Linked DNA regions of Homo sapiens: regions 2, 3 and 4 are each linked to region 1. Evidence: fine-mapped expression QTL. A gene starts in region 1. Each other region holds a variant in brackets. All regions are shown on one strand. Distances are between the middles of the regions. Region 1 holds the start of GPSM2 (G protein signaling modulator 2). Region 2 overlaps PRPF38B (pre-mRNA processing factor 38B). Region 3 overlaps AKNAD1 (AKNA domain containing 1). Region 4 overlaps AKNAD1 (AKNA domain containing 1).

What was found. PIP is the estimated chance that this variant, and not a neighbour inherited with it, causes the effect.
Region 2: its variant is fine-mapped to the expression of GPSM2 in pituitary (GTEx, PIP above 0.99).
Region 3: its variant is fine-mapped to the expression of GPSM2 in lung (TOPMed, PIP above 0.99).
Region 4: its variant is fine-mapped to the expression of GPSM2 in sun-exposed skin (GTEx, PIP above 0.99).

What each region holds. Positions count from the first base shown.
Region 1 is chr1:108,874,406-108,880,254 of GRCh38, reverse strand. GPSM2 (G protein signaling modulator 2) reads right to left here and starts at 3,270. Exons shown (of 15, transcript NM_013296.5): 1 at 3,027-3,270. RefSeq lists silencers at 2,875-2,944, 3,035-3,434 and an enhancer at 3,515-3,614.
Region 2 is chr1:108,694,517-108,700,365 of GRCh38, reverse strand. PRPF38B (pre-mRNA processing factor 38B) reads right to left here. Exons shown (of 6, transcript NM_018061.4): 2 at 4,596-4,664; 3 at 4,172-4,323; 4 at 4,029-4,089; 5 at 1,539-1,762; 6 at 1-1,204. The coding sequence ends at 346. Among named protein-coding and RNA genes, the nearest start is that of PRPF38B, 5.1 kb to the right of the region's middle. The variant G/A (reference allele first, on the strand shown) is at 2,733.
Region 3 is chr1:108,850,069-108,855,917 of GRCh38, reverse strand. AKNAD1 (AKNA domain containing 1) reads left to right here. Exons shown (of 16, transcript NM_152763.5): 2 at 3,151-4,246. The coding sequence starts at 3,254. Among named protein-coding and RNA genes, the nearest start is that of AKNAD1, 4.1 kb to the left of the region's middle. The variant G/A (reference allele first, on the strand shown) is at 3,435.
Region 4 is chr1:108,828,126-108,833,974 of GRCh38, reverse strand. AKNAD1 (AKNA domain containing 1) reads left to right here. Exons shown (of 16, transcript NM_152763.5): 10 at 3,325-3,416. All of the region lies in intron 2 of LOC105378891 (a long non-coding RNA gene), which reads right to left. Among named protein-coding and RNA genes, the nearest start is that of AKNAD1, 26 kb to the left of the region's middle. The variant G/A (reference allele first, on the strand shown) is at 3,063.

The DNA.
Region 1 (5,849 bases):
AAGGGTCCCTAGAGAGTTTGAGTTTAGAATTCTCCATAGGAAAATATATTAAACATGATTTTGTCTTCTCTTCCCAAAAGTTATCACCATTCTGTGGGAAAATAAATGTTTCTATTCAATAATGTTTTGTGATAATATGGGAATAATAATTCTAACTGAAAAGGACCAGGGAAAACTTTTTGGAAGCAAGGAATTTTGTACAGCACCTTGAAGGATGGGTAGATCTTATTAGCCAAATGAAGGAAAGGCATTCCAGTCAAGGGAAAAGAATGGCTCAAGAAAAAGGGAGGGTAGAAATGCACAGAATGTGTTCCAGGATAAGCACACAGTATTCAGAGTAGTGAAAGAGAAGGCTGAGAAGGTAGAACAGTAACAAACTGTGAGGGACTCTGAACATGTGGCAGAAGCATATATTCATATTCAGCCCCCCCTTTTTTTTTGAGATGGAGTCTTGATCTGTCACCCGGGCTGGAGTGCAGTGGCGCGATCTCGGCTCACTGCAACCTCCGCCTCCCTGCCTCAGCCTCCTGAGTAGCTTGGATTACAGGCGTGTGCCACCACACTGGGCTAACTATTGTATTTTTAGTACAGACGGGGTTTCACCACGTTGGTCAGGCTGGTGTTGAACTCCTGACCTCGTGATCCGCCCACCTCGGCCTCCCAAAGTGCTGGGATTACAGGCGTGAGCCACCGTACCCGGCCTCAGCCTTTTATTTACACAATGGGGAACCTTGCTGGTATTTTTTCCCCACAAAGGAATAGCCAAGTTGGATCTCTGCTAGGAAGATAAACCAGCAGCAACATATAAGGCAGGAATGGGGAGAAAAGAAAAATACTACAAAAACTCCAGAAACAACTACTGAATAGGAAGCATTTTCTTGTCATCTCACAACACCAACGACATTGCTTTGCACATAAGAGAGGCCCAACAAACTTTAATTTCTTCCCTGGGAAGAAGACAGGAATTATGACGAGGCCAAAGAATCCTACAATAGTGAGAAAACCGGACTGTAATACATTTCTTCTCCACAGTAAAGATTCTATTCATATTTATGTAAGAAACTCAGAAAAGTCTTACTCTTCACTTATGTTTTGTATAAAGATGATTAAGAAGATATTGAAAATATAATGTGATTTATAAGATGATTTATAAAATAATGAAGCAAGATAGTTCCAACAGAAAGATTGAAATATTTCTGCGAAGCTACAACAAAACACAGCACCTAAAGGCATCTTTAAAGTAGAACTTGTCCCTACAAATGGAATCCAGAGACACAGCAGAGATTTAAACAGACACACAGAAGCAATACAGCATGTGCTTTGGGATCAGGCCATGATTTGAATCTCGGCACAGTGACTTATTAGTTATATGATCTTACGCTAAACTCTCAGTTGGTGTGGGCATAATGACACTTACCTAAAATGTGCTGTGATAATTACAGACATGATTTATAAAGCACCTGACCCAGCACCTGGCTCTGATACATAACAAAAGTACTCAACATAGTGCTGTAGTAATAACAGTAACTGTTATTATAAAATAGACATATTTAATATATATTCAAATAAATTTAGAATAACCTAAATCTATGTCAGATTTTCCATTTTAAAATTCCAGAGAACTAATTACAAATTTCTAAAGATAGATCTTAGAAATATTTTATGTTTATGAAAAGGTCATTTTTAAAACTACTATATCTTATCACTGTTTTAATTAGTCTAGTAAGCAAGTCTCAGATCTATATTAAAATATGTTTGTAACACCGAATATCTGATTTAAGAATGTAAGAAAATACAATTAAACTGCTTATCTGGCCAGAGAGGATTTTGGAGACATGCCTCTACAACAACATCACACAACTTTTTACTTTGAAACCGCTCCAATACTTAAATTATAAGTAATAGCCTGGGAAATAGCTTGCGAAAACGACTCCGTGGTAGTTGTAAAGAGAAGTAGGTGTGAGACCACCCCTAATCCCTGAGGCCCCCCTCTCCTTACACACACCATGTCAACCAACAGTGATCTACCCTTTTTAATGTTGTTTATTCACTTCTAAACAATCAACTAAAGCTGCTCCTGAATAGTGAGAACCCAATCAAAAGTGGTATTTATCAGAAGCAATCACACCGGCTATTATCAGGCCAGAAATCTTCGGTACACCCTTCTAAAGTGGCAGCTTGAAAACTCAGCTCTGTTGGTCCTGCTGACTTCCAACACACCCCACGAACGCTCCAATGCAAACCCGATAGAAAGGAAAGCCAAGAACCTACTTCGTTTAATTCTACGGTGTGGTTAAATTATGCATTAAGGCCAATAAAATTTCCATCCTTACTCGTTTTCTTTAACAGAGTTCAAATGCTACTAGTTCAAATGCTCTAACTGGTTACTATTAAAACAAGGAAATTACAGATTTTTTTTTATTCGAAGGTATTCTATAGATTTCAGGAAAGAGTTTTCTTAACGTTTTATGTTTACTTACTCTTTTTGCAGCAACTACCAATTTCTATGGTAAATCGACCAGTTGGTGCCCAAAAGTTCACTAATTTAAGCACGGTCAAGGCAGGTATTTGCCATAAACTGCCTGGTTTAGGTAGGACGCGCCCGACTCCAAGTGATTGCAATCAGCCTCGGAATGAATTCCACGGGGATTCGGGCTTTGATTCACAATTTGTTACTCACATTCAGAGTGGTAAGAAGTCGCTGGACTCTAGTATAGTTTTTATCTTAAAAAAAAAAAAAGACTCAGGAGTGAGGCTCTTAACGCTTTACTCTCATTTGAAGACCTTCCGACAAAAAAGCAGCAACTCCTCAAGCCGAGTTTCTGGTTTCTTGAGCATCGACGCCGCGTCCCCGCAGCGCCCACAGGTCCCGCAAGCCCCCAGCCCGCCTCCTGCCCAAAACAAAGGACGTCACCCCCAGACCTCTGGACACAGAAGCCCCACACGCACGCACACGCACCCCTCCCTGTCACCTCCCTCCGAGAGCCCCTCAAACGCCTCAGAACCCGCGTCGCGGAAGCGCTCACCTCCCGCGGGCGGGCGGGTCCCGGGTACGCGGTGAAGGTGCAGCGGCGGCCGCCTCGGGCGACAGACGGGTGGTCACGGCCCCTCCCCAAGGCAGGGGCACCGCAGGAGGCCGGCGCGCCCCCTGCTCCCGCCCCCGGCAGGTCACGTGGGCCAGAGCTCGTAGCGCCCCTCGCTTTCCCGGAGCGTCCCTCCGCCACCTAGGGGTCCCGCCGCTCCGCCGGTCTCAACACCGCCCTCCTCTGCGCCTGCGCCCCGGCTCCAGGCGCTCTCATTCAAACCGACAACGCCCCGCGTCTTTCGGACCGGCCAATGGCGGGCGGCGCAGCGGGGCGGGGCGGGGCGCTGGTTGCCCCCCTCTTCGCAGTCCTGGGGAACCGTCTGCGTGTCAAGGTGACAGGGGGCTTGGGAGCTTGGTCCTCCTCTGCTCCGGGACGTGTCCTCAACCCTCAGACTGAAGTTTCTTTCCTGTCCTCTTCTTTCTTCTTCAGACACTAAAAAGTAGAGCAATAAATATTGTCTAGAGTTGGCCGGGCGCTGTGACGGACGGCTATAATCCCAGCACTTTGGGAGGCCGAGGCGGGCGGATCACCTGAGGTCGGGAGTTCGAGACCAGCCTGACCAACATGGAGAAACCCCGTCTCTACTAAAAATACAAAATTAGCTGGGAGTGGTGGCGCATGCCTTTAATCCCAGCTACTCAGGAGGCTGAGGCAGGAGAATCGCTTGAATCCGGGAGGCGGAGGTTGCCGTGAGTGGAGATCGCACCATTGCACTCCAGCCTGGGCAACAAGAGCGAAATTCCATCTCAAAAACAAAACAAAACAAACAAACAAAAAACATCGTACAGAGTTCAGATAGAGGCTGGCCTAGATCCCTTTAAAAAAGGAGCGCAAAACCAGCGCCGCCTTTTTGGAAGACTTGGTGCTGCGCTACAGAATGAGTGTCCCAAGCGGCAGATGCGGGATATAGAAGAAAAAGAGGCCTCTGTGGAAGGAACAGAGGGACCGTGTGAAAGTCTGAACAAGGCAGCCTCAGTTCTTGAGGCTGTGCCCAACCCTGGCGTTTCCAGCTGTTGGAAAAGCAAACTTCTGTTGACTACAGAATCGCTGGTTCCCAGGAAAATTGGGTGGCAGTTTTACTCAGTTTCACTCAGTTTCAGCGCCTACATTCTAAAGACACTGGGAAGAATAAGTTTTATTTCCATTCACCTCTCCTCCATGTCAAGGTGACCCCAAAATAGTAGTCACCTTATAGTTTGTTCTTCACAAAATACCGGCCGGGCGCGGTGGTTCACATCTGTAATACCAGCAACTTTGGGAGGCCGAGGCGGGGGGATCACCTGAGTTGGAGACCAGCCTGGTCAAAATGGTGAAACCCCGTCTCTACTAAAAATACAAAAATTAGCCGTGCCTGGTGGTGGGCGCCTGCAATCCCAGCTATTCGGGAGGCTGAGGCAGGAGAATTGCTTGAACCCAGGAGGCGGAGGTTGCAGTGAGCCGAGATCGCGCCACTGCACTCCAGCCTCGGCGACAGAGCGAGACTCCGTCTCAAACAACAACAAAAACCAAAATACCAAGACCAGAGTCTCTCTGGGGTAAAGCATCTGATGAATTTACTTAGATTATTTTTCAAATAGATATTTCTCTTCTGAAATGAAGTTTAAATGTTTCTACAGGGTAAAGGCTATGTTAAAGAAAACTCCGGGTTCAGTATCTCCGTGAATGATGGCCATAACCAGTGATCCAAGCAACATTTCCCATTAGGTGCATGTTATGGCAAATTGCTTAAAGGAACAGCTTTATCATCAAACTAGACCTGGGTTTGAGTTCCAATTCTGCTACTTACTTGCTGATTGACCTTGAATGAGTTATCTTCTTTAGTCTTAGTTTCCCCACCTGTAAAACATAATAAAGCCTCTTCTAATAAGGGTTGCTATGATGCTTCTGTGAGGTAAGGTTGTTAAGTGGTTGACATAGGGCCTGACACATAGAAACTGCTCCATACTTGATACCTATTATCGTTACAACCATCTTTAATATCAGGTTCTTGTAAATAACAATGGAATTGGTTGGCTGTACTGTTTCAGAGGTAGGTATTAATTCCTTCTTAATTATAAATTCTTTTAAAGTATGGATACTGTGAAAGCCACAAAGGAAATTTTATATATATAGAGAGAGAGACAGGACCTCCCTCTGTCACCCAGGCTGGAGATCACTGCACAGCAGCCTCAACCTCCCAGGGCCAAGTGATCCTCCGATCTCACCCCTCCCCTACACCCCAGTAGCTGGGACCACAGGAGCTTGACACTATGTCTGGCTATTTTTATTTTTTCAGTAGAGAAAAGGTCTCACTATGTTGCCCAGGCTGGTCTTGAACTCCTGGGCTCAAAGGATCCTCCTGCCTTGGCCTCCCAAAGTGCTGAGATTATAGGCATGAGCCCCCTCACCCAGCCAGAAGTACAACATTACATTCAACATGTCCAGAATTATTTACCCCCTGCAAATCTTCTCTTACATATGTGATTTCTATCTCTGATATTAGTTACTTCCATCTTCCTAATCACTCAAATTGAAAAATATCTTTTAAATGGCATAAGTCAGATTATGTCACTCTCGTACTCGTAAACCTTTAGTGATTTCCCATTTAATTTAAAATAAAATCCAAACTTCCTGTGGGGGAAAAGGCCTTAAGCCATCTTGCCCCTGCCAATTTCTCTCTTCTCTCCTATTTTTTCCTCCTGCTGCCTCACTTTCCTCCAAGTACACAGGGCATTCTTCATGCCCTAGAATGGACTAAGCCTCAAGGTTCTCTCAGGACCTCCT
Region 2 (5,849 bases), 180 kb after region 1:
AGATTAGTGGCAGTTTATTGCCTTATACAAATTTAACCAACATGGCAACCATGCCAAAGGAATTAAAACATTTTCAGGACATATGTACAGACTGTACATTTCAAAAACAAACAATAAAAATGCAAGAACAATCTGTGCATCATGTATCAAACTTAACAATTGGGTGAAAACACCAATGCAATAAATGGAATTACAAAGGCACTTCCCTACACGAAAGAGGAAATGAAAATGCAGCCTACAGGGAGAGCTTGAGGAGTGCGAACTACTGCACAATCTCAACGTGGGGGAAAAAAGCAGATTTAATCATTTATAGGATTCAATGTGATCCACTTTTACAAAATATTTTCACACAGTCTCATCTTTGTTTTTATGCTGTTTTTCTTGGCTCTCTTGTTCTATACTTTGGCTCCTTCGACGATCATGTTTGTCTGACTGGTCCTTACTATCACTGTGATCTCGTTTGTGGGAACGTTCTTTGCTTCTACTACGCTTTCTAGATTTTTCTTTGCTGGGACTATGTTCCCGTTTTTTTGATTTTTCAACACTGTCAGTTCTTCCTTGACTGCCACTTCGACTTCGTTTATTTGATTTTTCTTTACTTTCATTTTTATGTTTACTTGATTTCTCTTTGCTTCTACTTCTACTTCGTTTCCCTGCATTTCTACTTCGACTCCTACTTCTGTGTTTCCTTTCTCTGCTTCTGCTTCTACTGTGTTTTTTCTCTTTCTTGGAATCTCTTTTGTCATCTCTGTGCCGCCTATCATCTTTGTCTTCTTTATGTTTCTTCTCTTCTACCTCTCCCCTACTTCTCTGTTCCTTGGACCTTTCTCTTGATCGCTCTCTCTCTTTTTCTCGTTCATTTCCTCTTTCCTTATCATAGTCACGATCTCGTCTTCTACCTCTCTCATTTTCTTTCTCTCTTTCTCGATCCCTGTCCCTTCTATCCCCTTTCCTATCACGACTTCGACTGCGACTTCTATGCCTTTCCCTACTTCTGCTGCGCCTGCGTTCTAACCCCCGGTCAATACTTCGGGATCTTCGCCGTTCTTTCTCCCTTTCTTTGGCTTCACGCTCTAGTCGCTGGCGTTCTTTCTCTCTTTCTAATTCTCTGTCAAAACTAGAAGACCCATGGCCCTCCCGATGATGACTTCTACTTCTTGACCTTCTTGGGGACCTCCGTGGACTCAGAGATCTCCTTGGAGACCTAAGGAAGGCGGAGGGAGAAAGAAAATTTCAATGAATAAAACATATGCAATTCTTTTCACAGTAAAACTTTCAACAGCATTATTTATTCATGTCCTCAAGCTTAAGGCCATGTCAAGAATCATTAAAGCAAAAAATTTTATTGTTCTCATTTACAGATGCATAATTTTATAGAAAAAGCCCTGAAAGGAAGAAAATAATCTTTGGGGGGTAAAAGTGACAAACTAATAAAATGAACAGTAAAAACAAATTCCTAAGAACTTGCTATTTCTCAGAACCATTAATTTTGTATAAAGCATATATGAAAAATAAGCATAATTCAAGAGTGACATTACCTTGAACGTCTGCGTTCAACATGTCTGTCTATTTCCTCAGCACCTTCCTTCCCATCTTTCTTGATTTTTCTAGGTCGGGTTTTAATCTGTTGATCAATATTCTTTTGAACTGGAACTGGAATTCTTGGAAACAAGGTAGAAAACCACTCCAGTTTTGTGAGAAAAGATCGTAGCATTTCTCCAATGGTCATTACACAGCCTCCACCAGCCTTCACATCTAGGTCCTACAGAAACACAAAAGATACCCTAGCCGTCAAAAAAAGTATTTCCATATATACATGAATATTATAAAAATATTACCATCTTTGGAATCTCAATACAAAAAAAACTAACAGAAAAATTTTATTTTCATATCCTGATCTGACAATGAATGAACAGAAATATTTGGGCTTAGTGTGTGCATGCAAGTGAGAACAAACCCTGCAGCCTCACAGGCATAAAGGGAACTGATCTCACTCAGTTAACAATATGAAAAAGCCCCTTACATTTCTAAACTATGCGGAACGATTGACTTAAATTTACATTCCACATACCTACTATGTATTTATTTCTGTGGACATATTTGCACACATCATATACCTTGCACCATAACCTAGCTACATATGATCTACTTTAGATAATTCCTGTCTAAAGGTTATCTTTTAACAGCTCTAATATAAAATGAAGCCCTAATAAAACTGGAAGCAATAGCAAACCAACTGCCATGAAGCAGTGAGGTTTCTAATTTAGTTATGTAGAAAATAAATAAATGAACAAATAATTGGAAACGCATAATCCATGATGACCATTGTCTCTGAAAAGGGTCATTACCGCATGAAGGCCTTCTTGCTATGCCCTCTCACAGCTCAGGACATGTTAGTCAGCTATTGTCAGTCCCAAACCTATAGTGCAAGCACACAAGGAAAGTGAGATTTGTTATCTAAACAGGAAAACAAGAGCTAAAGGTAAAACTGCTTGCACTCACACACATTTAAGTGTTCAGATATACAGTATTTCCAAATATAATCGCTGCAGATATCTAAGGAAGAAAACAATAAGTTAGCTTAAATAGAGGACCTCAGATTTGTAAACACAATAAAAAACATAAAATAGAGGCATCCAGAAACAAAACCAATACAACACCAATTATGAAGAGGAACATGCTTTTTTAAAGACAGAAGGGAGAAGCACTTCAGTCTGAAAAACTGATCTAAA[G/A]ATAAAAAGACCTTAAAGATTGTGATTTAAAACACGTTTTGCTTCTTCTGAGTGAAGTAACTCAGTTAACAGGCAAAAAAAAAAAAAAAAAAAAAGAGAAAAATAAAAATTCTCCATGTCTAAATGAGATTTTTTTTTTTTTTAGGTGTGCATGTAATAACAAAACACAATAGATTTCCATTAGAACCATCCTTTAATTCAATAAATTCTTTGGATGAACTCTGTAAATAGACTACTGACACATAGCACTCAAAAAGTCTTATGAACCTTAAAACACAAAGTAGTAGACTGGGTAGACATAGGGACAATACAGCTCATCATTTCATTTTTGACATGTTGGACTTCACCATGCAAGTAAATTAATGCATATATGATATTTTGTTTTGTTTTGAGAAAGGGTCTTACTGTGTTACCCAGGCTGGAATGCAGTGGCAATGATCTTGGCTCACAGCAAATTCTGTCTCCTGGGCTCAAGTGATCCTCCCACCCCAGCCTCCCAAGTAGGTGGGACTAAGATGCATACCTCTATGCTCAGCTAATTTTTAAACTTTTTTTTGTAGAGATGAGGTCTCACTATATTGCTCAGGCTGGTCTTGAACTCTCGAAGTGTTGGGATTACAATGTGAGCCACCACGCCCAGCCAATGCATACACGATTTAAATCTAACTTAGTATTTCAGATTTCAAATTAGGGAGACTCGAATTACAATTTAAAAAATTTCTTTTTTAAAGGTGTGTGTGGTGTACTAGGAGTCAGAAAACTGGAATTAAAATTTTGTCACCTTGAACAAGTCATCCAAACACTTAGCCTATTTATGTAACACCCAACTCTTCAATTCTGCACTTCTATGCAAGTGGGAATACTGATATTTGGAAGAAGCTAGAGGGTGAAGAACTGAAATGTTCCAGAAGAAAAAAAAGCTACAATTAGTATTCTATGTGCATATCTTTTATTATCTGTTCGATCTTGAGCATGCCCCATCTTGAAAAGTCACTATTAACTATACAATTCAGGATCAATACAATACACAGAACATAATTAAGAAGAGAAAATTTTCCAATAGTTACCAAACACATTTAAACAATTTTAAAACAAGAAAATAAAACTTCAGAAATTTACCCTAAAATACATAAAAGCCATCAGGTCTCAGTAAAAGGACATTAATTCCAAAAGTATCTCACTGAAATAAATTTAACTACAGGAAGTTCTTGAAGACATTAAACCACCAATAAATAAAAGATAATAAAAATATGAGAGTAATCAGAAGAAAACAAATTATTACCCTTGTTGACATACCTCTTCATCATCAAGGAAGGATTCAAACCAGTCCCACAGATCTGTAGGGGGCTGTGTATATCTAGAATTACAAAAGACTATTATTAAACACATGTGAATTAAAATGAGATATTTACTGGAAATGTACATAAATGTACGCTCACCTTATATACATAAATCCAAGCGCTCTAATATATGGAGAGTCTGTGTGTGTTATAAGACCCATCACTTGCTTTCGAGTTAACTTCAGGGTAAATAATTTGTATAACAGGCAAAATGCTGTAGAAACAATTCCTCCTGTTCCAACACCTCGAACCTTTAGGGGAAACGAGTTAAGAAAAAGTAGTAAAATAATTAACGGACTCTTAACACCAATTGATTAATCCTGTTAGGTATCAATAACAATCCATAATCCAGAACTAAGGAGCATTAAAAAGTAACACTTTTCTAACCCTATTTCACTGAACACTTGAATTTGGATTAAAAAAATTGTCACTCAAGTGTATAATTGACAGGCCTCTAGTTCTCTAAATATAAACTTAGTTATTAGACACAGAAAAACTGAAAAATGCACGTACTTCTACTTACCCCTCCGCACATCCCTGTCTGGCCCGCTGTTTTCCTGCTTCCTTTCTCCCATGGTTCAACGTGCGTGACCTGAAAATAGAAAAGAGGAACACAACAAACATTCATACTTTGAATTTGTTTAAAAGCCTGATAAAAGTAAACCCAAGTCCATAATAGAGCAGCTCTTCCAAAATTATTTTGGCATTAAGTATATGTTTACTGATATTAAGTGTGTAAATCATTTTTGGAAAAACTGCTTAGACATTTAGACAGCACCCATAAAGCTACTAGGGTTTAACAAAACCTTAATAGCTTTGCAGAGGAGAAATCCCACTCAACTAGCTTTATAAAGAGCTGATATCTACATCTGGGAGTCAGAAAATTTCTATAGTCTCACTTGGTTGCAAAAACTATTTGGTAATATTTTAACTTTGATAATATTTGACAATTTAACTTATGGGTTGCTTAACATTTTCCTTTAAAAATGGATTTAAGTCTCCAATTTAAAGCAAAAAGTATTAACGTTAAGCATTAATTTAAAAACTTCAAAACACCTTCAATAGTTCAATTTTATTGTAATTTAAAATCTACATTATAAAATTAAGGAAAATTACTTGAAGAAAATTTTCTAAAACAGTAACGAGTTACTTGTGATGCAAAATTATGGAACTTTTTATTTGTACATTTTTTCCACCAGGGTCAGGTTTATTCCTGATTAAAGATAAAATTACAAAGGCCACACTTACAGAGATCATTGTTGTAATTAAGCTTCAGCCTAATTATGTGTGAACCAATCCAATTATTCCCCAGAATATAAATTGTGTCAAAAACTGAGTGTGAATAGTCACTGGCATATACTAAGTATCATCAAAGATGATACAGTATCATATTTGCTAAGAGGAACATCTTACAAAAACTAGTCCTTATCTAAAAATAGCAACAACAACAGCAACAACAACAAAAGAATATTAACTCTAAAATAGAATCCAAAAAGGTCTTTTGGGAAGACCCATCTTTGTTTTTTTTTAAAAACATAAAAAAAAATCCTGTTTTTTCACTGCATATTTCTAAAATTCTATTTCCACCCACATGGTAAATTTTGTAGTCCTGAACAATGGCTTTAGATAGAAAAGCGTGCATGTAAGTTTAAGCACTACACTATTTTGCAGTGCTTTAACGTTTCCTTTCTTCCCCACAGATTGCCATGTAAAAGATGTTTCAATTCCTTAAAAGCTAGCCAAAGGCAGGGCTGGATGCATACAAAATAAAATTACA
Region 3 (5,849 bases), 24 kb after region 1:
GTGATAGAGTGAGACCTTGTCTAAAAAAAAAAAAAAAAAGATACTCTGTTTTTTTTTGTTCTAAAAAATTAGACAATATTTTGTTTAAACTTGCTTAGTGATTTATTTATTTATTTATTATTTTTTATTTTTTTGAGACAGAGTCTTGCTGTTGCTCAGGCTGGAGTACAGCGGCATGATCTCGGCTCACTGCAACCTCTGCCTCCCGGGTTCAAGTGATTCTCCTGCCTCAGCCTCCCAAGTAGCTGGGACTATAGGGATGCACCACCATGCCCAACTAATTTTTGTATTTTTAGTAGAAATGGGTTTTGCCACATTGGCCAGGCTGGTCTTGAACTACTGAGCTCAAGTGATCCACCTGCCTCAGCCTCCCAAAGTGCTGGGATTACAGGCATGAGCCACCTCATCCAGCCTGATTTTTTTTTTTACCTTCAAATATATTTATTTACAGATTGAGTTTTAAAATTGTCTTAAAGTTCTTGTAGAGATTATGTCTTTTTTGTTTTGAGACGGAGTTTCACTCTATCGCCAGGCTGGAGTGCAGTGGCGCGATCTTGGCTCACTGCAACCTCTGCCTCCCGGGTTCAAGTGATTCTCCTGCCTCAGCCTCCTGACTAGCTGGGACTACAGGTGTGCGCCACCACGCCCAGCTAATTTTTTGTATTTTTAGTAGAGACGGGGTTTCACCATGTTGGCCAGGATGGCCTCCATCTCTTGACCTCGTGATCCACCTGCCTCGGCCGCCCAAAGTGCTGGGATTACAGGCATGAGCCACCTTGCTTGGACGAGATTATGTTTTACATATGCAATTCCTTCCTTTATCCTTTAAATATCCCCACGGATAAGGAGTGCCTCACCTCTGGACCTGGGCATTCTTCAGTATTCCAATACTGAGACTGGTTTTGTTTTTTCATTTTTCAACAACAATGTATGGAATTCTTACTCTGTGCCAAGCCCTATGCCGAGTACTTTAGTGCCTTATTTCAGGTATTGCTAGTCCTATTTCTCAGAAAAGGCAACCGAGACTCACAAGAGTTAAATAACTTGCCAGATGACACACAGCTAGAAAGCAGAGAAGCCAGAGTATTCAGATCCATGCCTCTCCACTTCTGCTTTCCCACTGTGCCTTTCACTTTCTTGGGAAGCCTTTTCCCTTGTTCTTCAACTTGGATTAGAATAGCCTGTAATTCTTCTCATGAAGACATGCCTCACTTTATACTAAATGTTACCCTCTTTAAATGATTTAAAATAATCCTGCAGTGATATTCTCCTTTCTCTCCACCTCTCTAAACAGAGCATCTGTTTAATTTGGGTTCTCTAACATTGGCATGTGTCTATAAATTAAGATTTTTGTACAATGTCTCACAGATGCTTTTACCACATTTAGTTTGTACTCCTTTTTTTCTTGGACGACTTAGTTCAAAAAAATTTATTTTGGTCAAACATATGATTTTAGCTTTTGAGGTTACCTAATAAATCACCAGCTTATAGACTCATAAAAATTTGGTTGGAGAGAGAACCTCAGAGATCTGCTCACCCAACATAATCATTGTATGGGCAAGGGAGGCTGCCAGCAGCTGTGGTCACCCTGGGCTGGTGCTCCAGGGGAGAGGGAATCTCAGTTACTCTACTTAAAACTTGAGATTACTACTTCTGAGGAATCATCCCAAAAGTTCACAAATCAGGAAGAGATATCTGAATGGGTGCTTTAAATTTTGTTTAAAAAAGAGAAAATAGGACTCATACCAAATGGCAGCTGGTTTTACTCCAGCCATTTTCAGGAATATCCCCAAAGAGTCTGGTACCACCAGACCGCCGCCTGGGCTGTGGTGGCTGGCAGGGGTTGTTCAGGGAAGGCAGCCTCTCTGACTAGGTTCCTGCCTGAGTCCAAATTAGAAAAGGGACATTTGGCTGCAGACTGGCCTCCAGGTGTTTGAAAGCCTATTTGTCCCTTGGTCACATTTCTTTTTTTTTCTTTTTTTGAGACGGGGTCTCTCTCTGTCACCTAGGCTGGAGTGCAGTGGCTTGATCTCGGCTCACTGCAACCTCTGCCTCCCAGGTTCAAGCGATGCTCCTGCCTCAGCCTCCCAAGTAGCTGGGACTACAGGTGCTTGCCACTACACCTGACTAACTTTTTGTATTTTTAGTACAGATGGGGGTTTCGCCATGTTGGCCAGGCTGGTCTCGAACTCCTGACCTCAGGTGATCCGCTTGCCTCAGCCTCCCAAAGTGCTGGGATTACAGGTGTGAGGCACCGTGCCCGGCCCCTTGGTCATATTTCTGTAAGTCCTTCTCTGCCCTTCTCAGACATGCAAGGGAAAGTCAGGAGAAGGGGACCAGAAGGTCTGGAGGGACAGGTGAAAAGGCACCAGAATGGAGAAGGTGGGTGTTACATGTGAGCTAGGCCAGCTTCCATCGCCACATGGCTTAGAAGACTGTCAGTGACACGTGGACAAGGCGTGGCTCTGGTAGTTAAAAAAAAAATCAGGCCGGGCGCGGTGGCTCACGCCTGTAATCCCAGCACTTTGGGAGGCCAAGGCGGGTGGATCACGAGGTCAGGAGATGAAGACCATCCTGGCTAATATGGTGAAACCCCATCTCTACTAAAAATACAAAAAATTAGCTGGGCGTGGTGGCGGGCACCTGTAGTCCCGGCTGCTCGGGAGGCTGAGGCAGGAGAATGGGGTGAACCTGGGAGGTGGAGCTTGCAGTGAGCCGAGATTGTGTCACCGCACTCCAGCCTGGGCGACAGAGCGAGACTCCGTCTCAAAAAAAAAAAAAGAAAAAAGAAAAAAAATCAATCCTTTACTTGCATCCCAAGTTCCTACTTTGGGAGAATAAACTCCAAATACTATCTCCTAAGGGAGGTTGATAAGTATTTGGCCATTAACTGTAGACTAATGTCATCCTCAAAATTTAATAAATGAAAAATGTAACACTCTCTTTTTTTTTTTCCCCCATTCCTTGCTGTTATTCTACTGATTGTGTTAACATAGTGTGGATTGAGGTTGGGTCAGCTTGTGGTTGAGCTTCCTGCCTTCCTGTTTGTAACTGAATTTTTCAAATTAAAAAAACATCCACTTTGTTCTGGCATAGTTGTATACATTATTCCAATATATTTAACAATGAGGCTGTTCTCATTTCACACAGAATAGCACACAGTGAAGACAGTCAGTGAGAACCAGAGCTATTGTTACAACTGACAGCAGCCAGCTCAGGAGGCAGAGGACGAGAGCGATCGGGCTGCACACACATGGATGAGGCTGATTTTTCAGAACACACGACTTATAAGCAGGAGGATTTGCCTTATGATGGGGACCTCTCTCAGATTAAGATAGGCAATGATTACAGTTTTACCTCAAAAAAGGATGGCCTTGAAGTCTTAAATCAAATTATTTTCATAGCAGATGACCCTCAAGAGAAGGCTATGCATA[G/A]TGAGACTTGTGGAAATACAGCTGTGACCATACCCCTGGGTAAAATTACTGAAAATGCTGCCAACAAAAAAGACGAGAAAGAGAAACAATGCACTGCAGCTCTTCATATTCCAGCAAATGAAGGAGACGCTTCTAAGTCAAGCATTTCTGATATTTTACTTCATCATCTTTCCAAAGAGCCATTCTTAAGAGGTCAAGGCATTGATTGTGAAACCCTCCCAGAGATCTCAAATGCCGACAGTTTTGAAGAGGAAGCTATTATTAAAAGTATTATTTCATGTTATAATAAGAATTCTTGGCCAAAAGAACAAACCCCAGAACTCACTGACCAACTCAACCCGAAAAGGGATGGTGAAAACAGCAATAAGCCTGGTTCTGCCACCACGACAGAGGAAAATACCTCTGATTTAGAAGGGCCAGTGGCTGCTGGAGATAGCAGCCATCAAGAAAATGTGAATGTTCTAACTAAAACCAAGGGTCCAGGTGATAAACAAAAAAGTTATCAAGGGCAGTCACCCCAGAAACAGCAGACTGAAAAAGCAAATTCAGGCAACACGTTCAAATACGGCCAAGGTCAAGTTCATTACCAGCTCCCTGATTTCTCTAAGATTGCTCCCAAAGTGAAAATTCCTAAAAATAAGATAATTAATAAACCACTTGCAATAGCTAAACAAGCCAGCTTTTCTTCCAAGTCGAGAGATAAACCCACTCTTGTGCAAGATAGTCTAGAAACCACGCCTGAGTCAAACTGTGTTGAAAAACAACATCAAGAGCAGAAAGGGAAAATCACTGAACCTTCACAACAAATCCAGGTAAATGAAACAGTCTCCTGTAAACACATTAATTGGGACCACTGCTTATCTCTTTCAGTGTGGGTTTTTGGAGGGTGAATAGAGCTTGGTTCTAGTTCCAAAGTTTCATTCAGCACCCTGGGTCACCCTGGATGAGTGACGTGGCCACTCCGACTCTCAGTGTCCTCACGAGAAGCATCACAGGCTACACTGACAAAAACATATAAGAGAATAAAATCCAAATTCCGCAAGCCGGAATTTGGCTCTCCTCACTTAAACTTAGCTGCCTTCCTTCAGGAGTCATCTGCAGTTACCTGGCTGGTCCAGAACCTCTTCCCAGGCCCTGAGCTCTCTGAGTTCCTGCCTTGCGTGGCACATCCCATCTTGACTTGCCAAAGACCTGCTTGTTTTCATGGCCTCCTTCAATTCCCCCTTGGGCCACATAACTTTTCAGGTCTCCTAAGTCACAACCTTTTCCACACTTGTTTAGTCGTTCCATCAGAGTGTGTATCTCAGCCTGCTTTGGATCTTAATAGCAGAAGCATCTGCTTCCTCCACTAGATTCTAAGGCTCTGGAGGGCAGCAACCTTATCTTCGCCTTTCCATTGCCTAATTTCCCCCAGAGGCCTGGCCTCGTGTCTTAACGTACGTTATGCCCTTAGTTATTCATGCTAAGTCCAATGGAATTAAGATCGTTAGTAATGGATTTCAAGCTTGTTATCTTGGTAATCATTTGGTACAAAACTTTGTTAATGCTTAATTTATGCTATTCCCCCTTTCCCTTACGCCAACTTCTCACACTCCCCCACCAACTTCTCAACATGCTGAGGCTCAGGATCTCATTGATGTTTGAGGCCCAATAGTAAGGTAAATCCATCTTAATAATCAAAATATACATTTTAGTTCTTGGGCACTTTGCCTAGAGTGCATGATCTTTCCTTTGAGCCTTATATGAAGGTGTCCTGGACTGAACCACACTGCCTGTTTCCATTTCCATTCTCTCTCTTTTTCTGTAACCTAACCTTGGAAGTGATTTTTCTCTCTCTCTCTTTTTTTTAATTTCCATTTCCATTTTCACACTTCAGCTCCCCTCTCTTTCAACTGAATGCCTGGGGAGTTTGAGCAGAACCCCCTACATCCAAACCTGAGCCAACAGCCCACCTGGCCATGACTGGGATGCTCTCTAGGTCTGAGAGAAACCTACACCCCCGTGGTATTGGGAAGTGTCGGGGTTCCTTGTTCTGCTTGCAGGAGAACATCCTCATTGTGTCCAGTTCTCAGTGCCCCGTGGTTAGCAGGAGCAGATGGATATCAGGCTCTTCTCCCTCTGGTATGGGGGTTCGAGGTCAGGTATCTGATTTTTTCCAGTTCTGTCAATTCAGATTGGAGAATTGGACACTGCAGGTTTCATATCCGTCATATAGTTGAGATGTCTAGAAAGACCATAGTCCATTTTGACCAGCTCTCCAGCACTAGCGTGTTTCTGAGCTTTATGTGTTGGGAACAAAGGAAAGACCCCACAAGGTGAATCACTCTGGAATTTAAACTGTTCAATTAGCCAGTGGTGAGTAGAAAACCATCACTATCTTGACACACAGTTTGGAACTTAATGCATCCTCTGTTA
Region 4 (5,849 bases), 46 kb after region 1:
TAAGCAGTAAACAATGATATAATAATTATGTTGGCTCAGAGCTTTACAGTTTGCAAAGACTTTTTGCAGAGGAAGAGTAGTTTAGAAAGGTGATATTTGTTCAGGGTAAATGATAGGTGATGCCCGGGTCTCCAACTCAGGTGGAGGGGCACCTCCCTGCATTCTGCTAATGTAAATCTGCCTTAAATGTCAGTGGAGGAGTAACCCTGTAAGCTCAGCAATGATAAAATATAAAAATTAAAAAAAAAAAACCATGGGAAAAATGGATGAAAAAACCCTTTTTTTTTAAATTATAAAACTGATACATGCTTATTACAAGAGAAATGAGAAAATAAAGAAAAGTATAAAGAAGAAACTTCCACTGAGAGGAAAATCAATCTAATTTTTTTTTTTTGAGACAGTCTCGCTTTGTTGTCCAGGCTGGAGTGCAATGGTGCGATCCCAGCTCACTGCAACCTCTGCCTCCTGGGTTCAAGTGATTCTCCTGCCTCAGCCTCCTGAGTAGCTGGGATTACAGGCATGTGCCACCACGTGCAGCTAATTTTTGTATTTTTAGTAGAGAGGAGGTTTCACCACGTTGCCCACACTGGTCTAGAACTCCCGACCTCAGGTGATCCACCCACCTCAGCCTCCCAAAGTGCTGGGATTACAGGCATGAGCCACTGCGCCTGGCCCATTGCTAATATTTTAGTGTATATCCTTCCAGTCTTTTTTTCTCCTATATATACATTTTGGCCAAAATAGGATTTTACTATATATATTGTTTTATGCTTTTCATTTAATGTTATATTTTGAGCAGCTCTCCACATCACTTAGAATAAACTATCGCTTCATTTTTGATGACTGTACTATATTTCATTATACTAATGTACTCTGACACATTTAGACAATCTCTTATTGATGGAGATTTAGTTTTTTCCAGTTCTTTGATATCATAAACACTGCTTCAGGTAACATCATTTGACATGCAAACATTTGTAGTTGATCATTTCCTTAGAATAAAACCCTAGGATTGCAGTTAATGGTTCAAATGGTACATGCTGAAAATTCTGATAATCTGGCCTTTAGGAAGTCCATGGGGGTTTATAGGCTGAGGGCAGTGCGTGGGAATGTTGGTGTCCCCAGTTTGAGCCTACCCCAGACATTTTTTTCTTTTTCCAACTTTTGCCAAATGCATAAGTGAAAACTGATATCTCATTATTTTAATCTTGCTATTTTTGAAACTCAATCTATTTTCATATGTTTCTTGGCCACTCGCACCTCCTCCTTGACAATATTGATATTTTAAGTTGTTTACAAAACTGAAACCACCATCAATTAAAAAAAATGTAGATAGACAACTGAGAAAATATTAAGGGCAAATAATGTTCATTGTTGAGAACTTCATTATATCAAATGCTGTGACAAATTCCCCAAGGAGCAGAACTGTGGTTAAGAACACAAGCATACTGGCCGGGTGCAGTGGCTCGCGCCTGTAATCCCAGCACTTTGGTAGGCCAAGGCGGGTGGATCACTTGAGGTCAGGAGTTCGAGACCAGCCTGACCAACATGGTGAAACTCTGTTTCTACTAAGACATACCAAAATTAGCTGGGTGGGGTGGTGTGTTCCTGTAGTCCCAGCTACTTGGAAGGGAGGCTGAGGTGGGAGAATCACTTGAAATTGGGAGGGAGGTGGAGGTTGCAGTGAGCCAAGATTGCGCCACTGCACTCCAGCCTGGGCAACACAGAGAAACTCCATCTCAAAAAAAAAAAAAAAAAAAAAAGAACACAGCATACCAGTCAGATAGGTAAAAGTTAAAATCCCAGCTTTCCCACTTACTCATGATGCAACCTTGCCAAATTGCTTAAATCCGCCAGGCCTCAGATCACTCACCATTAAAATGGCGACAACGTGCCAGGATGGTTGGAAGTATTAAGGAGACTATAAGGGAAGCACCTGGCACATCATGAACAACTAGCAAATGGTAACAGGAAAACACTGAAACCCTCCAAGAAAATTAATGGACAAAGGACATGAGCTAAAAAGTCACAAGTAAGGCCGGGCGCAGTGGCTCACACAATTACTCACAATTAAAGTAATCCCAGTACTTTGGGAGGCCGAGGTGGGCGAATCATGAGGTCAGGAGCTCAAGACCAGCCCGGCCAACATGGTGAAACTGTCTCCACTAAAAATACAAAAAATTAGCTGGGGGTAGTGGTGGGCACCTGTAATCCCAGCTACTTGGGGGGCTGAGCCAGAAGAATTGCTTGAACCCGGGAGCTGAGATTAGGCCACTGCACTCCAGCCTGGGCAACAGAGTGAGACTCCGTCTCAAAAAAAAAAAAAAAAGTCACAGGTAGGAAATACAACCAATAAATCAGCATATAGGAACAGACTTATTTCCTTTAGTCACAGAGGAAATGCAAATTAACACAAAAGGTGACACACCCCTCCCTTCAATTAACAGAAACATTTTCAAGTGATAATTCCTGATGCAGAGGAAGGTGTGGTCAAACTGAGCCGTCCACACTGTTGGTGGCTGTGAAATCTGTACAACTTTTGTGGAAAGCAATTTGGCAATATGGGTCATCACACAAACATGTTCGCAACCTTTGGCCCAGACATTTCCTCAGGAAGTAATCCAAGATGTGGAAAAAGCTATGTGTACAATGATGCTTCTGCCATTGTTTATAATGATGGGAAAAGTACATTTATTTTTTACTTACATAAAGGGTAAGACCTTAGTCAAAAATACACAGTGGGTGGTAACAGCCCTCACAGGTCAGTGGAGTAATTGTTTTGTGTTAAAGAGGGACATATAACCAATCATTTAGGCCCCCAGACAGTCCCTAAACCCTGTTTTAATTCATAGTTGAATATATTTATTTAGAAAGGCTTTTAGAGCTCTACTAGCCAGCGGTCAGATTAATAGATCTAAAAATTATGTTCCTAAATCTGTTCATTATCTGGCGAAGCTTGGAGTAATTTGAAACTAAGGGAAAGATAAAAAGGGGAGAGTATTCTGTCATCTGTACACCAGATTTTAAAATCTGTTTAGAGGAGGAAGGAAGCAAGCCAGGGT[G/A]GAAACTTCCATTCTTCAGCCCAGGCCATTAGAGGCGCAGCCCCGACTGAGTGACACATCAGAACTAAGGATGGGCTCTTTCTTCTTTCCCTCCTGTCCCCCTGCGCCTCCCTTTCCCCAACTGGAGGAGAGGTTTGGCGAGTCTCTCTGCCTGAGGTGGCAAGTTCAGCCGGACCTCAGCTGCTTGCTGGGCTGTGCGTGTGCAGCCGCGGCGTGAGTCACATCCTCTATCACATCTCCATCTGTGTGCTTTGTGGCGCAGGAGGATCCCAACGGCACTCCAAGAAGGCAGGATTGTGCAGAGATGACGGCACCCAGTCCGAGCTGTGCCTTCTGTCGCAGGCTCCTTGAATGGTGAGGGCTTCTTGTGGCTACATTCCCAGGGTGGATTGGAGTCAGTCCTGGCATAGTAACTCCAGTGAGAGTGGGCGGCAACTAACTGAGGCCACTGGCTGAGTTATAGAGTCACAGATCTCAGGCCTGGGCACAGAGCCCAGCCTCCCTCGCACCCTACAGATCCTCTAGCAGTGGTCCTCAACTGGGGAGACCATCAAAATCACCATGGGAGATTTTACAATCATGCACATGCCTCCATCCCACCTACTGTCTCAGCATCGCCAGCGGTGGGGCTCTGGTAGGAATATTGCTTTTAAATCTCCCCAGGTGATTCCGATAAGCCCCCTTGGTTAAGAATCATGGTTACAGCCCACGGAGGGTGGTCCTGTAGGCTTTTGATCATTGCCCACATGGGGGATTCTTATCCTGTATAACAAACAGCTCCCACCATCCCTACTCTCTCCTTATGATGAGCAAAAGTCTTCTCTGTTGGGTTTCACCTGAGCCCCCCAGTCCCAGGAACAAGCCTCATCCCTCTTCTCAGGGCTGATTTCTTCCCATTCCTAAGGACGAAATCTTCCAGAGCTAACAAGCTGTAAATCATGTAAAATCCTCAGGAGAAATCCTTTGTTTTTGAAACACCCATTGGTGCAACTATTAATCTGTGTCGATTCAGTATCATTTATTTGAAGCTTCTTTCAGGTAGCGAGAGATGTTACCTCTAAGCTCACTGTGGACTCCGGCCAAAGCTCGGCTCATTGACCTTTGGAAGGTCAAGAGTCAGGGAGGCAGCAGGTGTTTAGCAACCACTGTTATATGTACGTAATGGATTCTAATAGAAGCAGATGACAGGGTCTGAAAGACTGAGGCTTCCTGTTAGAAAGCATTCCATTGTGGGAATGGGCACCTGCCTTAAGAGTTCTAATGAGTGTCCACCCCTGAAAAAAGAAACTGCATGAAGCTCGTGCTAAAAATGGTCATGTGTCATTGTGTGTGGGTCATTAAACCACCATGTCAGTCATCAGCTTTGAGCTGCCCTTTAATCCAAGGGGCACTCATGAAGCTTACTCACTGAGTCATCCCAGGCCTACTATTTTTATTTATTGAATTAAAGTCTAATTTTGGATTTTTAAAGGTTTTACTAAGTATAATGAAAGTATTTTGACATTAAAGAACCATTTTTATTAAGCACTCAAGGTACTAAATTTCTCTCTTCTAAATTCCTAGTCTAGACCCTACAGAAGTACATTAAGTACCAAGACAGGGACCAATGTTCCAGACTAAATAATACTTTTTTATGATAGACAAGCTGGAAAGACAAGCACAACCAAGTGTAAAATCAAATCTCACAGTGAATCCACTGCTGGGGAGTGATGAGAAGATACACATGACTTATGAATTAAAATCTTGTAACTTACATAATCCCTGAGGAATTATTGATTGAAGGGAGGACTATATATTCTTTCTGTTAGAAGATTAAATCTCTCTCTGATGGGACTTGTCCTTTATGAAGCTTGCTGAGGTACATACTGTTTTCAGGATATTTGTAAATTGTTTATATATAAGTGGATAAATTACATATGTATAAAATGTAAAATATGCTTATCCCTTTATGTTATTTCTGATGCAAAACTTTGGATTTAAGTGTGTACTTTAGCTGCTTTGTCTTGTTGAAAAACTGTCTTCTCCAGAGGAATTATGTTTGGCCAGAAGATTTGAGTACACAAAGGAGTTTAAAAGCAGAAAAAGTCCTGTGTTGGACTGCATGCACTTGAGTGAGATCCAAGTTTCCCACTTTGGAGAGCAGATGTTCAAATGCCCCAGAGGAGAAGGGTGGAGACAGAAAATGAGGTGTGAGAAAATATGTGACTCAAGAGGACAGCATGTTTTTCCAAGAGGAGGGAAAGAGCCTGGCTTCTCAGCCCCAGCCCCACAAACCCGCAGCCCCATCCCTTCTCCGCCAACAGCAGGCCAGGGCACAGCGCGGCGAGCATGTGTTTGCCCAGCAATGCCTTGGGCTCAAACCCTAGCCCTGGGCAATCTGCCTCATTTATGCCAGGATATCTCGGGCACAGTGCCTTCCATACTAAGAATGAACAACTTTCCCTGGGGGCTATGACTGTATCCCAGGAGCTTAGCAAGAGCTTTGTTCAGAACTGTTATTAATTCGAATTCCTTTGGAGGAGTTGGGATTTCTGAGGAGGAGGGAGGAAGCTGCAGGTGGGCCACAGGAAGGCTCCTGAACAATGTCCATTGCAGTTGCTTCTTTCTGACGCCACCTGGTGGCCATGTGCAACTAAAATCACCTTCACGTGCTCCCTCAGCCTTTAGTCCCACAGACACCCGGCAAAGCCCACTTTGCTGGAGTTGTTGGATGTAATCAGCTTGTACTTCCAGGACCAAAGCTACGTGACCCATTACTGACGTATAGCATAGTTTCTTCCCCTGGTA